Regions from separate parts of the Homo sapiens genome. Here region 2 is linked to region 1. The links come from fine-mapping of genetic effects on gene expression. Tissue or cell type: whole blood. Region 1 holds a variant in brackets; the other region holds the start of a gene. All regions are shown on one strand. Distances are between the middles of the regions.

Region 1 (8,108 bases):
TATGTTATATGTATTTTGCCATAATTTAAAGAAAAAAGAATAAAAGAGTATGTGGTGAGATGTGAAAACTAAACAGAGAAAAATGTCTCCTGGGAAGAAACACAATCCTACTGCACCATGGGCACTGCCAAACACCCTGTTTTTTTCCAGTGGTGGTGGAGAGAGGGCACTTGGTCACCAAACATGCAATGAGCACCCACAGTGATGAGCTGGCAGGTGACCTGGAGGATGCAAAGAAACAGATGACAGAGCTCCTGCCTGCAAGCAGGGCATCCTACAAGAAAGGAAGATAGACACAAAGGTCCACAGCACAAATAAAGAGATGAGTGTAGGCATGAGGTAAGATCACAATGGCTACAGTCTTTTACAATCATTCAAATGTTATTTCTTTTTACCTGATTAGCTTATTCCATGAAAGGTCAAGGACAGCATCGGTATGCCCTTCTGCTGAGGAACTCTGTAATAATTGTTTTAATTATTTTTTGTATTAAAGTCCCCCTCATAATAAAACTGAATATATTAATCTGCAAAATTCTTTAAACCTTAAGATTATTTTGTTTTGTTTTGTTTTGAGACGGAGTCTTTGTCTGTTGCCCTGGCTAGAGTGCAGTTGCACGATCTCAGCTCACTGCAACCTCCACCTCCTGGATTCAAGCGATTCTCCTGCCTCAGCCTCTCAAGTAGCTGGGATTACACGCGCATGCCACCATGCCCAGCTAATTTTTATATTTTTTGTGGAGACAGGGTTTTGCCACGTTGGCCAGGGTGGTCAGGAACTCCTGACCTCATGATCCACTCTCGGCCTCCCAAAGTGTTGGGATTACAGGTGTGAGCTACTGCACCCGACCTATTGTTTTGATATTATATAAACTTTTGAAGAATAAAATAAATAAAACCTTGTCTCCCTGTTAGAGACTCATGATTAATTTCATTACAGGGGCTGGGTGCAGCGGCCCACACTGTAATCCCAGGACCTTGGGAAGCTAACGTGGGAACATCGCTTGAGGCCGGGAGTTCGAGACCAGCCCAGGCAACATAGCGAAACTCTGTCTTTACAAAAAAGTCAAAACTTAGCCAGGCATGGCAGCATACGCCTATAGTCCCAGCTACTCAGGAAGCTGAGGCAGGAGAATCCCAGGATCTCTTGAGCCTAGGCGTTTCAGGCTGCAGTGAACTATAATCGTGCCACTGCACTCCAGTCTTGGGAGACAGAGCAAGACCTTACCTCTTTAAAAAAGAAAAATAAAGAAAAAAATTTCATTACAAGGAACAGGGAAGAAACTATAGTAGTTTATTTTTTTAGAGACAAAATCTCGCTCTGTCACCCAGGTTGGAGTGCAGTGGCACACAATCATGGCTCACTGCAACCTCAACCTCCTGGGCTCAAGCACTCCTCCCACCTTGGCCTCCCAAAGTGCTAGGACTATAGGCGTGAGCTACTATGACTGGCCTAGCAGTTCTTTTTTTTCCCTTGAGACAGAGTCTCGCTCTGTCACACAGGCTGGAGTGCAGTGGTGTGAGCTCACTGCAACCTCTGCCTCCCAGGTTCAAGTGATTCTCCTGCCTCAGCCTCCCAAGTAGCTGGGATTACAGGAACACACCAACATGCCTGGCTAATTTTTGTATATTTAGTAGAGACAGGGTTTCACCATGTTGGCCAGGCTGGTCTCGAACTCCTGACCTCAGGTGATCCACCCGCCTCAGCCTCCTAAACTGCTGGGATTACAGGAGTGAGCCACGTGCGTGGCCTGGCCTAGCAGTTCTTAATCTAGGTACTGTAATTATACAAGTATCAATATAGCTCCCAACCCTCATAAAACCTAACGATTTTAAAAGCTGCAGGAGTTAATACATGGATAATTAGAATTCAACATGATAACAGAAATTTTTTTAAAGTTCAAGGTTGGTATATCTGTATAAATAGCTACTGTATTTGGAGGAGGCTCATAATCCGAAAGTCCTTCATCTATAGTAGCTATTCATATTAATATACTAGCTTTGAACTAGTTTTGTGTAAGAAAGAACAACATGATAATGGAGGTTTTATGTAATCAGAAATAAGTTTTCTTTGGATGGCCTTTTCAAAACTAAAAATTACAATAATTTCATAACTACCTACCCCATCTCACCAAGAATACCTGATTGAAAAAGTGTACGGTCTTACCCTTCACCCCTACTCCCGAGTAAACTTACCTCTGTCATTAGAGTTTAAATATTTATTAACTTCTTTACCTTCTTTCCTTTCTTTTTCTTCTTTTTTGAAAGTTTACTTCCGAGTGTGAAGACTGGCTCTAAAGAGTCCACTATATCAAGGTCCCACACTTCAATAACAGGGGTCATGTTTCCTACAGCAATGTAATTTCCTATGGGAGGAAACAATGCATGTATGATTACACAAAAAAAGACATACAGAACTTCTAATCAAATACATTATACTGTAGATTAACTGAAAAATGCTTTAGAGCAGTGCTTCTCAAACTTATATGCATATGCGGCATCTGAATGTTACAAATGCAGATTGTATTTCAGGTGGTTCTGGGTGGGCATTTCTAACTAGGTCACAGGTGATAACCATGCTGTGCTGCTGCTGGTCTTTGGGCCACAATTTGAGTAGGAAAGGCTCAATCTCTTGGCCCCAGTGTTTTCATTTATATAACGAGAATAACCCTCCTCCCGTCCTCCTTCATGGGGTGCTGTGGGGATGAAGATCAGATCAGATCATGAATGTGAACAAGGTGTGCAAACAAGACGTAAGACAGTATAAACAGTGTTTACCTTTATTAAAAAGTACGGACAGGGGCAACTAATAGTGTGCAGATGTGGTTACAAAGACTAACATGAAAACCTAATTACTTGTGACAAGCCTCTTCATTTCGGTTTTAGCTTATGTTTTCTAAAACAGGTTATGCCACTGAACTCTAGCTGGTAACATCTCACATATCAGGCCATTTATACTGAGTCTTTATGGGACCTTTACAGTTCTACAGTCCAAAAGGCTTCAGGCCCTGTCCTTCAGCCTGTAGTAGAGCAGCTACCTCCTTAGCCTACCTGAAGTCTGGGGATTTATGAACCCCAAACAATAAAGTGATGGTGTGTTAAGAACTCTATAACTTCATAAAATAACAGTAACTTCAGAAAATATCAGCAACAATTCTGAAAACATTCAAGAGAATACATAATTTATGGAGCTAGGAGAAAATACATAAGACTGGAAATCATTGAACAACCTTAAGTTTTCTAATTACCAGTAGAATCATCTGGGCTAGGATCAAAATTCAGCCATTCCACACTCAGAGGATATGCAGACAAGAGTATATCATGGTGTACATAAAAAGAGTCTTCTTCTTGATTATAAACTGAAAAGATTGGGAAAAGAGACTTTAATGTATCAGAATGAGTCATCAAAAATCACATCCCGCTCAAAAAAACAAATTCTATTAAATGTACGTGAGCCATGTGCTTTAAAGTGAGACATCTGATATTATAAAGAGATTCCAGGCTGGGCGCAGTGGCTCGTGCCTGTAATCCCAATACTTTGGGAGGCCAAGGTGGGCGGATCACTTGAGGTCAGGAGTTCGAGACCAGCCTGGCCAACACAATGAAACCTCGTCTCTACTCAAAATACAAAAATTAGCTGGGTGTGGTGGTACGTGCCTGTAGTCCCAGCTACTAGGGAGGCTGAGGCAGGAGAATAGCTTGAACCTGGGAGGTGGAGGTTGCAGTGAGCTGAGATCGCACCACTGCACTCCAGCCTGGGCGACATAGTGAGACTCTATCTCAAAAAAAAAAAAAAAAAAAAAGATTCCAATATCATGACTAGGCAAAAATTCTGCATGTCTAATACAGTGCCATCTTGTGGCATACCCCACAGGAGAAAATGAACACTGACATCTGATAGTCCACCTGCATCCTTGTCAGATAAATGGTCCTGTCTTCTAGGTCATTCATAGAAAACAAATGTTCATAAGTTCATAATGTTCATAACTACAAGAAGTAGTTATTATTTTATCTTTTAATGGTCTAGCTGATTATAAGTCAAAAAGAACAAACCAAAAATAGCATGGGAGAGAAATAATTCATATTTGGAAATCTAAATGCTTATCAAAAAT[T/C]ACTCTTAATATTTTTAAAAAAGGTTTATGAAGATGAACAATGTAAACAAAGCTCCTGAGGACATACTTTTGGAATATGGCAACAGCTCCTTAATATTCACAGCTGTAATGTTAAGCAGCAAAAACATTGTAAAATCAATGAGTAAGAAGTCTTTTAAAAATTACACAGTGAAACACTGATAAAACAGAACCCACTAGTCAGAACCCCTCCCCATATGCTTTGTATTAAGAAGGAGGTAAATATATAATAAATTAAGGATTTTATTTTTAATTCCTCAGATTGCTGCTTCTGGAATAGATCCTGGGATTAGCAGATTTGTGTAATGCTCTATCACATCCCTGTGATGAGAATTCATGTTCAAAATTATTAGACTGTGGTTCTACAAAAACCTCAACCATGTTCGATATACTCAGCTTACATTTTACATAAAATTGGTAATAACTTTTTTTTTTTTGAGATGGAGTCTTGCTCTGTCGCCCAGGCTGGAGTGCAGTGACACGATCTCAGCCCACTGCAAGCCCTGCCTCCCAGGTTCACGCCATTCTCCTGCCTCAGCCTCCCGAGTAGCTGGGACTACAGGCGCCCGCCACCACGCCTGGCTGATTTTTTTTTTTTTTTTTGTATTTTTAGTAGAGACTGGGTTTTACCGTGTTAGCCAGGATGGTCTCGATCTCCTGAACTCGTGATCCGCCCGCCTTGGCCTCCCAAATTGCTGGGATTACAAGCATGAGTCACTACGCCCAGCAACTGGTAATAATACTTTAAAATATACTCTTAACCACGTGAGATCAATATTCGGATCAGTTTTAGAATATAAATTTGAAGTTATTCTTGCACACACATACTGGGCAATTTGGAGATTCCTTCCAAACCCAAATAATAAAGTATATCTATAATAACCTAACTGAGAAGGAAATGGAAATATAACAGCTTTAACTTCTTTCTCAGCTCCTCTTTGATCCTGAGTTCAAAGGAATGACTGTTAAGTTCTCAGGTAAGAATGCATAAAAAAATCGATGATGACAAAAAAAACTCTAATAGGTTCTCAATTTTTTGAAATTAGAATTGGTCTTAAAAGCAAAGTAAACAAATGGTTTTCATTTGAAATATGTAAAAGTTCAAAGATATCAAGAGTTAGAAAGAATAATTTCACATTAAAGTGCCTGCTATGCATAAACAGATCACAATGAGCCATGAGATAAAATGGGCCTAATCTATAGGCTTCCCACGGACAGCCTTAAAGATTCTGAAGAGGTAACAGAAATCCAAGCTAATCAATGGAAGCCATGATGAAGCAACCTAGAAGATGGCGATAAACATTAAGCCTAAGGGTTTTATTTTTTCAAGCTGTGCAACTGTGTTTCCTATAACAAAAGGACTTATCAGCCTAATAATCTCTTCGAATCTTCAAAGTTTCAAGACGATCTGAAGACTGCTGGGGGAGGAGAGTATCGGGCAAGGATGGACTTGTCTGAGGATATGAGCGCAGTGGAAGGGACAAGAAAAACAAAACGGAGAATCTGTAGGCAGAGTGCGCCAGACATTGTGCAAGTCTACTTTTAGCATATAAAAAACAGATTTTACATTAAAAACACCAAAGTGAGGCAAGCCATTCAATTAATATTAAATCAAAAACAACATTTAAAAATACAATTTAAAAATTCCTATTTTCATGCCTACTTCTGATTACTGCAAAGCATCCGCTTCTGGCTTTGATACAAATATTCCTTAAGTAAGAAAGGTGATCACGATGTTTTGGTTCCAAAAAAGAAACGTGGCCCTTTGTGTTGAATTATTAGGAAGAAAATAAAATGTTTTGCAAAGGGGAAATATCTGAAATAACTCTATTTAAAAAACATGAGAAAAACCTGTCTATCCAGTATAATCCACATAAAGAAAAAGTAGCCAGAAAAAAAAATTGAGTAAAAAACCAAGGTGGCAAGTTATTAACTCAGGGAAATGGGATTATACATTTTTTTCTCCCCTAGAGATGGGGTCTTTGTCACCCAGGCTGGAGTACAGTGGAGCAAACAGAATCACAGCTCACTGTAGCCTAGAACTCATGGGCTCGAGCAATCCTCCCACCTCAGCCTCCCAAAGTACTGGGATTACAGGTGTGAGACACCGCACCCAGCCTTGTATTTTTATATATAATTTTACTTCCAGGTTTTTTATAGCAGGAGTAGGAGAGGAGTGAAAAACAGGCAATCACATTTAAATAAAAGATTAAAAACCTCTATGAGGCCAGGTGTGGTGGCTCACACCTGTAATCCAGCACCCAGCACTTTGGGAGGCCAAATCAGGATTACGTCAGCCCAGGAGTTCGAGACAGCCTGGGCAACACAGTGAGACCCTGTTTATATATAAAAACAAAAAAAAACACCCCTATGAAAAATTTCCAGGGGATTTATTTCCATAGAAAATTCAGATACCAAAGTGATGTACTGGACTACACATACCCAGAACAATAACCAAGAAATTGGCCACCTGTGTAAAAGTTAACTATGTAACCAACTTAAATGAGATACAATAGGATCTGGCACCTAAAAATGAAATGGTAACTATTTCACTTATTATTTTACCATCACTTAGAAAATCTTTTAATAAGGGATTTATCACTTACCATGCACCTCTAAATTGCACTGGTCCTGTTCAGCTCGGCCACAAACTATAAGATTATCACTGGGCTTAATCAAGAAATCTTCACGTTCATATTGTTCCTAAGTGAGAGGAAAAAAATGTCATTGACTAGAAGCAGAGAGCCAGTAAGGTTTTTTGAACACTTAAGAGCATAATTAGAAAAAAGATGTAAATACTTACTGTATCTTTCAGAGTAACGTAAGGATCTTGATCATTACTCCCGTAGACCGTAAGACCCAAGAGAGATTCACCAAGAGTCTCAGCATCTGTAAGAAAAATTGACAAACTACAATAATAAAATAGTCATCTTGACAAAAACATATTTCCTATGACATCCATTCTTGGACTTAGATGCAATCATCTATTTTATAACTAACTCTGGATCATCTAGAGTTGGGAAAGGAAACTACGTAAGCAGCAGCAGGAATTTAAAAGCCATTTTTGTATTTGACCTTTGGAATGGATTTCAGACAGTCTTGGAATTCACAATCTTCCAATGAAAGAACTGTATCAGGGAATTAGACCCTTTTAGAAAATATGAGAACTCTCTTGAGATTCTCTAGCTAGCTCCCTGCATTCATGATTGAAGGTGATACGGAGAGGCAGCCTTGAGGACCTGGAAATAAAATGACCCTGAAACACTGAAATCAACATAATAAATAAGGGTTGCCTGGTCAAATAAAATTGAGAAATGACAGGTTTCAAAAAATTAACCAGGTTGCTCTACTGCACGTGTTCTGATATGCTAATATGCCTTATTGGCATATGAAAAAAGAAATGCAGTATGCTTTTTCCACTGAACTTAAATTATTCTTTTATGGCACATCTACGATGGTAACAAAGGATAACTCAGGAAAAGGAAGATACACTGAATTGTTAGAGGAAGCCACTTTAAGGAGGCAGGACTGATAGGTCTTAAACATCTGATATGCAACAGAGAAAGCAATTTCTGCTACACGAGAAAGAGCTGATTCTGAATGCCATCTCTCCAGGCTGGGTTATTTGTTTCTCTGTATTTCTATGGCACTCTGTCCCTAACAAGGTTGGAGCCCATAACCCAGAGTCCAATAGAAAAAACTATCCTCTGCTGGACTGTATCTATAGAAAAGATGCAGTGAAAAGAATGAAGGCTTTAGAGCCCGAGAGTGGTCAAAACTCAGCACCGTCTTTCACCAGCTGTGTGCCGCTGGTAAATGGAGGTAATGATTCCTTTCTAAGTACTGCAGATAATGAAAAATGAAGTTAATAGTAATCCATAGGACAGATGGCCAAGCGAATGAGGAAAACGGAGGAATGAACATCTAGATGGAAAAATGGATAAATGACAATAAAAATCAATTCAGATGGAGTGAGGAAAT
Region 2 (8,108 bases), 65 kb before region 1:
AGGTTTGTAGCCTAGGAGCTATAGGCCATACCATCTAGCCTAGGGGTGTAGTAGGTTAGACCATCTAGGTATATGTAAGGGCACTCTATGATGTTTGCACAACCACAGAATCACCTAAGGTTGCATTCCTCAGAACATATCCTCATTGTTCTGCCACACCGACGCTCTTCATTTCTACCTGTGTGATTGGCCAGTTTCTCCCATTTTTGTTGTTGTTGTTGTTTGAGGAAGTGTCTTGCCCTGTCGCCCAGGCCAGAGTGCAGTGGCTGTGGCCTGATCACAGCTCACTGCAGTATCAACCTCCCAGGCTCAAAGTATCCTTCTACCTCAGCCTCCCAAGTAGCTGGGACCACAGGCATGTACCATCATACCGGGCTGATTTTTGTAAAGACAAGGTTTCATCATGTTGCTCAGGCTGATCTTGAACTCCTGGACTCAAGAAATCCACCAGACTTGGCTTCCCAAAGTGCTAGGATTACCGGTGTGAGCCACTGTGTCTGGCCTTTCCATTGTCTTTATTGTCTTAACAGCACCATGGAGTCTCCTTAAAGGGGTAAGTCACCCTAAATCAGCAGTTAAGGCAATCTTTGAGCAAACATTTGCTGTACATCTCCAAGTAAATAGATATATGAGTCAATATGTGTGGCTTCAAATTATGCCAGTTTGACTTTCCCTCAGGCATCAGAAATTCATTGAATATCTAATATATGCCAGGTATAGTGCTATGTTGTATAGCATTAAATAAGATAGACATGAATCTTCTCCCCAAAATTTAAAATGTATTTGGCAAAATAGAAAATTAAACAATTAATTACAATAAAGATAGGTACTATGAGAGAGCATACAGTGGGCCTAGTCTGGGGAGTAGAGTCAGAACACTTCAATTTTTGTTAATCTTGACATAATTTTTTAATTGAATTTTTGAGGTATTTTTACATACAATAAAATTCACCAATGTCAAGTTTACTATTTGATTAATTTGGACAGATGTATACAATTGTGTAACCTCTACCACAATCAAGACCATTTTCATCACTCCTAAAAGTTCTCTTATGCCCCCACTGTAGGCAATCTCATCCCCCAACCCATTCCCAACTTCTGACAATCACTTCTCTGCTTTCTATTACTACAGTTTTGCCTTTTCTAGAATTTCTCATACCTGGACTCATAATATGTAGTCTATTGTGTCTGGTTCCTTTCACTTAGCATAATACGTCTTTGAGATCCATCCATGTATCAACAGCTTGTTCCTTTTTATTTCTGAGTATTCCACTGTATAGATACTGTACACTATCATTATTCATTTACCAGTTGATGGACATTTGGGTCATTTCCTGTTCTGGCCTATGACAGATAACGCAGCTATGGACATTGGCGTACAAGTCTTTGTACATATGTTTTTATTTTTCTTTGGTAAATACCTAAGGAGTGTGGAGAATTGGATGGTATAAGAGGTATAAGAAATTGCTGGCCAGGCATGGTTGCTCATGCCTGTAATCCCAGCACTTTGGGAGGCTAAGGCAGGTGGATCACTTGAGGTCAGGAGTTCGCAACCGGCTTGGCCAACATGGTGAAACCCCATCTCTACTAAAAATACAAAAGTTCGCCAGGCATGCTGGTGAGCACCTGTAATCCCAGCTACTGGGGAAGCTGAGGCAGGAGAATCACTTGAACCCAGCAGGCAGAGGCTGCAGTGAGCTGAGACCACAGCACAGCACTCCAGCCTGGGTGACAGTGAAACTCTGTCTAAAAAAAAAAAGAGAGAAAGAAAAAAGAAAGAAATTCTAAAATGGCTGTGGCATTTTTTTTGCATTCCCACCAACAAAATGTGAGGGTGCCAGTTGCTCCATATCTGTGCCAACACTTGTTATAGTTGGTCTTTTTAATTGAAGCCATTCTAGTAAGTGTGTAATATCACTTCATTGTGCTTTGATTTGCATTTCTTTGATACCTAATGATGCTGCACATCTTTTTGTGTGCTTAATCGCCATCCATATAGCTTCTTTGGTGAAATGGCTGTTGAAATTTTTGCCTAAGTTTTTAAATTTAATTGTCTTCTTATTATTGTGTTTAAAGGGTTCTTTATATAGTCAAGATACAAATCCTTTGTCAGATATTTGTTTTGAAAATATTTTCTCCCAGTCTCTCACTTGACTCATTTTGTTGACAGTATCTTTTCAAGATCAACCATTTTAATTTTGATGAAGTTCGATTTGTCATTTTTTTTTTTGAGATAGGGTCTCTCTCTGTCACCTGAGCTGGAGTGCAGTGGCACAATCTTAGCTCATTGCAACCTCATACTCCTGGGCACAAGCTATCCTCCTGTCTCAGCCTCCCAAGTAGCTGGGGCTACACGTGCATACCACCATGCCCAGCTAATTTTTTTTATTTTTTGTAGAGACAGGGTCTCACTTTGTTGCCCAGGATGGTCTCAAACTCCTGGGCTCAAGCGATCCTCCTACCTCAGCTTCCCAAAGTGCTGAGGAGAGAGCCACTGCACTTGCTCCAATTTTTTAATAGTTTGTGATTTTTTTGTCCTATCAAGGTCACAAAGATTTTTGCCTTTATTTTCCTCTGTAAGTATTATGGTTTTAGCTCTTACATTTATGTGACCTGATTTTTATGTTCACCTCTCAACTTAATAAAATTGTTCCAAAAGAACAGACATCCAAACCCAAACCTAGTGAAAGCATTCGGCCGGTAATAAGATACATCATCATTCTCTAGGCTCCAGATTTGAAGTGGCATTTCAGGGAATACTGTCTCTCAGTTGAGATGATGACCTTCTTGATTTAGATTTCTATTTGTTGTCAACAGAGAGCAAAACCAATGTGACCTGCCTGCCAATGTTCAGTGAAGTTTCCTCATCTGGAATGTGCTTTCCCCCCATGAGAAGTAAACGAAGGGAAACATTATGGGGGTTGACACCCCTCCCAGCTCTCGTCCAAAAGGTTGCATGTGCCTCTACCCTTTCACATTAGACTGAATTTTCAAAATTCATCAGTTCCCACTAGACTGCAGGCAGGTGAAGGTCAGGGCTTGTGCCTTGCTCTGTATCCCTAGGTTTGAGATGTAATTCAACAGACGCTTTGTGAATGACAGGAAGAATTCCTGGGTCTGCTGTTCTGCTGGTGTAAGGGAGCCACCAGGCAGTGTGGTGTAATTTCAACGTCTACTGCTCAGGAGCTTGGGACCACCTTCCTTTAAAGCCATCTCGGTACTCCTAGCGTTAGGCACAGTGCCTGGCGCGCAGTAGAGAACTGAGGGCAGAGAAAAGGGGAAGGAAATTTTGTTTAAAATCCCAAACCCCAGCATTTACGACGGGAAGCAGGGAAACTGGGCAGCCTTCAGGTGTAGCAGACGGCCGAAAATATTCAGGATAGAATCCCAATTCCTCCTGGGCAGCAGAGGCAACCCTCGGGGCCAAATCCCATACTTCGAATTTTGGGGGCTTTGTGTGGACCCATGCTTCTCTAGTAGGGGAATGTCATGAAGACGAAATCCTGAGTCTGCGGGATTTAGGGGATTCAAAACTCAATCCCTGCAGGAACAGCAGCCCTGGTCGCCTAGCAACCATGGGCCGATCGCTCGGCGCTCGATTCTACCCGGCCGGATGGAGACGCGGAACTCCCGGCCGAGCCTCTCGCGGCCAGTGCCTCTGCCGTGCGCACGCGCGGAGGGGCCTGGGCTGGGAGAAGGGCGACGCGGTGCGCGGGCGCCGCTTGCGGGCCGCGGCGGGGAGGGCGCACGCACGAGGGGCGGAGCGGCGGGCGCTGAGAGTGGCTGAGGATCCGGAAACGCGCCGCAGAGGGTGCGGCCCAGAGGAGGCCGCGGGCCGGGAAGGGCCGGGCGGGACGGGAAACGTTAGGGCAGCGGCCCCCGGGGTGAGGGGGCCGAGCGGACGGGCAGGGCCCCGAGGCGAACTCTGCCCGGATGAGGAACAAAGCAGTGGGGCAGGCGCGTGCGCCCCCAGCGCAGCTGGCAGGTGGGCTGCGCGCGGGCCCGGCCGGAGCGGGGCGGGGCGCGGCGGCCCGGCCTGCGGGCCGCGGGCGGGCTAATCCACAGCCCTTGGGTGGCGGTGTCGGCAGCGCCTGGGGCTTTCGGGTAGCTGGGATGGGGGCTGCGACCTTGTTGTGGTTTTGGTGACCGCTCTTGTCCCCACTCCCCCAGGTTGGGCAGCCCCCTTCCCGAAGCTTCTGGACGGAAGGCCCCAGGTGTTCCCCGAGATGCCCCAACCCGTGGCGGGGTGCACGGCCACCGGCCCTCGGGAGAAGTTGGGCGGCCCCGGGCGACCCCGGGGACGAGTGGCCGCGTCGGTGCAGCGGTTGTGAGCAAGATGTGGTAGCACGTGACCCTGGAACGCAAACCCTGATGCCTGTTCCCCACCACCCGAGCGCTCCTTTCTCTGATATTTGGCCCCAAGCCGATGCATCACAGGTGAGTAGGGAGGTGGGCTTCAGCACTGGTGACATCGTTGGAAACTCTGGCGAGTGAGTGTCCAGGGTCAGTGCCGTTGTTTTTGGTGCCATTGAGAAGGTTACAGGTGTGATTTGCAAAGGAAACAAATCCAGAAACTAGTGTTGGGTGGAATGTAATCTCATGCATCCTAATTTACTCCACATGTGGAAAGTTGTTCCCAGTAGCCACACGTTTATTGTTGGCTTGTTGACACCTTTTCCTGTGTCTTTCAGTTATTTGAGCGTTTAATATATTTTTCCGGATTCCAACGTGTATTGTTATCTTATTATGCTTCACCTTGAGTTTTGCTGGTATGGCAGGGACGATAGTGAGGGAATTAAGTTCTTAATTCTGCAAGCTTCATGCTGATGTTTAAGTACAGAAGCAGGCCACAGAAATTGTTGCATTTGGCTGTTTTTTCAAGGCCCTTTCAAAGGCCGTATGTTTAGAATAAGGAAGATAAGGCACAAATTCATTGAAATTATTGAAGCCCCACTGCATTTTTCAAAGTGGCTGCATTTCAGTTAGTTTATTATATTTTATGCGAAGAAAAAGGTGTAAAATCAGCAACTGGCAGATGGTTGCATAGGTCAGTTAGAAACACACACATAAACTGTAGAACTGTGTAGGAAATTATTTTACCCTAAATGAGTAGGGAAGATAGAGCTTAGTATCTTGATTCTTGCCTTCTTCCGGGATTGCTTCTTAGAATCTCATAGGAGAAAGAAAATGAGAATAGAACTGCATTTTAGAATGAGAAAGTCTTATGAGGATCATATTGTACATTCCCTTCATCTGCCTTCTCTCTGTGGGATACTCATTACCTTTGGTTTATGGCTGCTGAGGTCATCACGTTTTAGTGACTCACAACAAAGCAGAAATCTGCTGAGCCTCTCGCATTAAACTCTGGTTTGAACTGGTTTGAGAAGGCCTAGGAGTCAACCTAGAAACACCATGCTGATTTTTATCTTGAAATTAAATAAATATTCAGGAATTTTCAGAATGAGAGTTGAAGGTGCAGACTTGTAGTTGTACTTTTAAAAAAATATTGTAACCAATTTGTTAAGTAGGCTGTTACAGCTGTAGTGATTGTAGTGTTTTAATTATGGTTGTAGCTATAAAGAGTTAGGGAAAAGTCTGTTTTAAACCAACTCAAGCCCAGCAACTTTCAAAATTAAGGTAGATATGTTTTCTTTAGGCTACAGGGATTTTTTGCTTTTTTTGTTTTTAAGACACAGTCTCACTCTGTCACCCCAGCTGGCGTGTAGAGGTACAGGCAGAGCTCACTGTAGCCCCGACCTCCCCACTTCAGCCTCCCCTGTAGTTGGAACCACAAGCACGAACCACCATGCCTGGCTAAGTTAAAAAAAATGTTTAGTAGAGACAGGGGTCTCACTGTGTTGCCTAGGGACGTCTCCAAGTCCTGGGCTCAAGCGATCCTTCTGCCTTGGCCTCCCAAAGTGTGGGATTACAGGTGTAAATCACCACACCTGGGCTGCTTTATTTTATAGCATAATAAAAACTGTTATTAGCATGCTGTTCTTCATAAGGTGTACCTCATTTGCCAGGTGCTTCTAGCTGTCTTTCTGGTAAGGGTGATGAGTTTGCATAGCTCCATCCGATAAAATAAGAAAATTCAGAATGTCTGTTCTATACAAGGTACTAGGTTGGCCTTTTACATTTTATTGATGTCTTAGAGCTTAGTTTTATGGGATCCATGGCCAGGGATAAGGGTGAAACCTAATAATGCAAGAAACAGGTCTATGTGGAACTTTAAATATACGCCACAATATAAGTAGATAGGCCCTAATGTATTGCAACTGTGTAAAAGGCAATATAGTTCTTTTATTGTAATTGTCTTTTTCTTACTATAGTTAAGAGCTTTGGTTTCTTAAATTAGTTCTGAATTTAAATCCCAGCTCTCCTTACTGGTTATGTGATTCTGGGTTAAGTTTCCTAGCATCATTGAATCTTAAGTTTCCTCATCTTTAAAGTGGGATTAAGAATAATACCTACCTCCAGCCTGGGCAACATAGGGAGACCCCATCTCTGCAAAATAAAAACAAATTAGCCAGGCATGGTGGCACTTGCCTGTGGTCCCAGCTGCTTGGGGGCTGAGGTGGGAAGATCTCATGAGCCTAGGAGGTAGAGGCAGCAGTCAGCTGTGATCACGCCACTGCACTCCAGCTTGCAGCTACTGAGCAAGACCCTGTCTCAAAAACAAAAAAAAAAAAAAAAAAAAAAAGAAGATTAAGAGAGATAGTTACATATAAATCACTTAGCCCAATACATAGCACATGGTAAGGGAGCCATAAATTTTAGCTATTATTATTTTCAGGTTGATTGATAAAATGGCATTGCCATTTTTCAGAATTAAAAACCTATTTAGATTTGATTTCACTGCTAAGGAATATGTAACCTCATTTGATTCCTCTTCTCTGCTTCACCCCCTCCCATACGCAGAGAATAAAGCCCAGTGTAAGGACTGGAGGTCATTAGAGAGCCCCTTTTGGGTAACCTGTTGGCTAGCCTAGTGGTTCTGTAATGTTTATAGTATGGCAGTCTCTAAATTATGATATAAGAACTAATACTTTTTGATAACAACCTTCAGTGCTGTTTTATTCAAATCAGTATTACTCTTATTCGAAAGACATTTGTAATGGCAGTGCAAGATGGTTTGCATAGAAAAGGTGATTCCTAGGTTCTTCACCTTGCCAAAAATAGTCTGTAGTTAAAAAAAAAGTTTGGTGCAGTTAAAAAAAAGTTTGGTGCAATGAAAAACTTTTTGGCAGTGTTTTGCAGTTTGATCTGTGATCTTTCACTTAATAGCTATGTGATTTGGGGCATATGACATGGCCTCTCTGAGCCATAGTTCCCTCATCTATCTTACGTTGCAGTATTGGTGTGAGGATTTGAAGTCATTTTAAGTGAAGTGGTAGCAAAGCTTACATAATGACCCTCAATATTTGGAGGACATTAATATACTGATACAGAATCTTAGTAAACTGTTGCTGAATGGGGAAAATACGATGCTTTTCACATCATCGATAATCTGGATCTTTAACTCCTATTAAAAATGATTAGTAAAATTTACTTGAGTAGGTTAAAATGCGCTGCCTAAAACACTACTGGTTTGAAATAATAAGCCATTTGGAGAAAAATAAATATTATAAAAGATGAAGCTTGAGTGATTTAAAAAAAAACTGTCATTGCCATTGTGCTCTAAGAATTGCAGACTTTGCTTTAGATGGTGTGCCTAGAGTTTCGAACAAGGCAGAATTCAAATCCTATTTCTGCTATGTGACATTGAATTGAGTTTTTAATGTCTCAATCTCAGTTTTCTTATCAGTAGAAAGAATATGGCACTAGCTATCTAAGAGAATTGTTGAGCGTAAAAGTGAACTAATAGTTGGCCAAGTCCCATTTCCCCATCCCCACTGTTTCAGTTTCTTCAGTATCTTAATACAGAGTCATTGGAGTAAATTTTTGCATAACTAGTTGTGTGTGCTCTTTTCTAGGATGAATGAAATGAACCTGAGTCCAGTGGGGATGGAGCAGCTGACTTCATCCTCTGTGAGCAATGCCTTGCCAGTCTCAGGAAGTCACCTGGGATTGGCTGCCTCACCCACTCACAGTGCCATCCCTGCCCC

The links. PIP is the estimated chance that this variant, and not a neighbour inherited with it, causes the effect.
Region 2: it holds the start of PRDM4, and the variant in region 1 is fine-mapped to the expression of PRDM4 in whole blood (INTERVAL, PIP above 0.99).

The regions. Positions count from the first base shown.
Region 1 is chr12:107,691,722-107,699,829 of GRCh38, reverse strand. PWP1 (PWP1 homolog, endonuclein) reads right to left here. Exons shown (of 15, transcript NM_007062.3): 4 at 6,931-7,016; 5 at 6,734-6,830; 6 at 3,246-3,356; 7 at 2,233-2,363; 8 at 396-457. Among named protein-coding and RNA genes, the nearest start is that of PWP1, 10 kb to the right of the region's middle. The variant T/C (reference allele first, on the strand shown) is at 4,110.
Region 2 is chr12:107,756,834-107,764,941 of GRCh38, reverse strand. It overlaps PRDM4 (PR/SET domain 4), which reads left to right and starts at 3,805. Exons shown (of 12, transcript NM_012406.4): 1 at 3,805-3,985; 2 at 4,171-4,437; 3 at 7,977-8,108. The coding sequence starts at 4,427. It overlaps PRDM4-AS1 (PRDM4 antisense RNA 1), which reads right to left. Exons shown (of 5, transcript NR_120474.1): 4 at 6,550-6,667; 5 at 4,974-5,170. RefSeq lists silencers at 3,515-4,094, 4,145-4,254.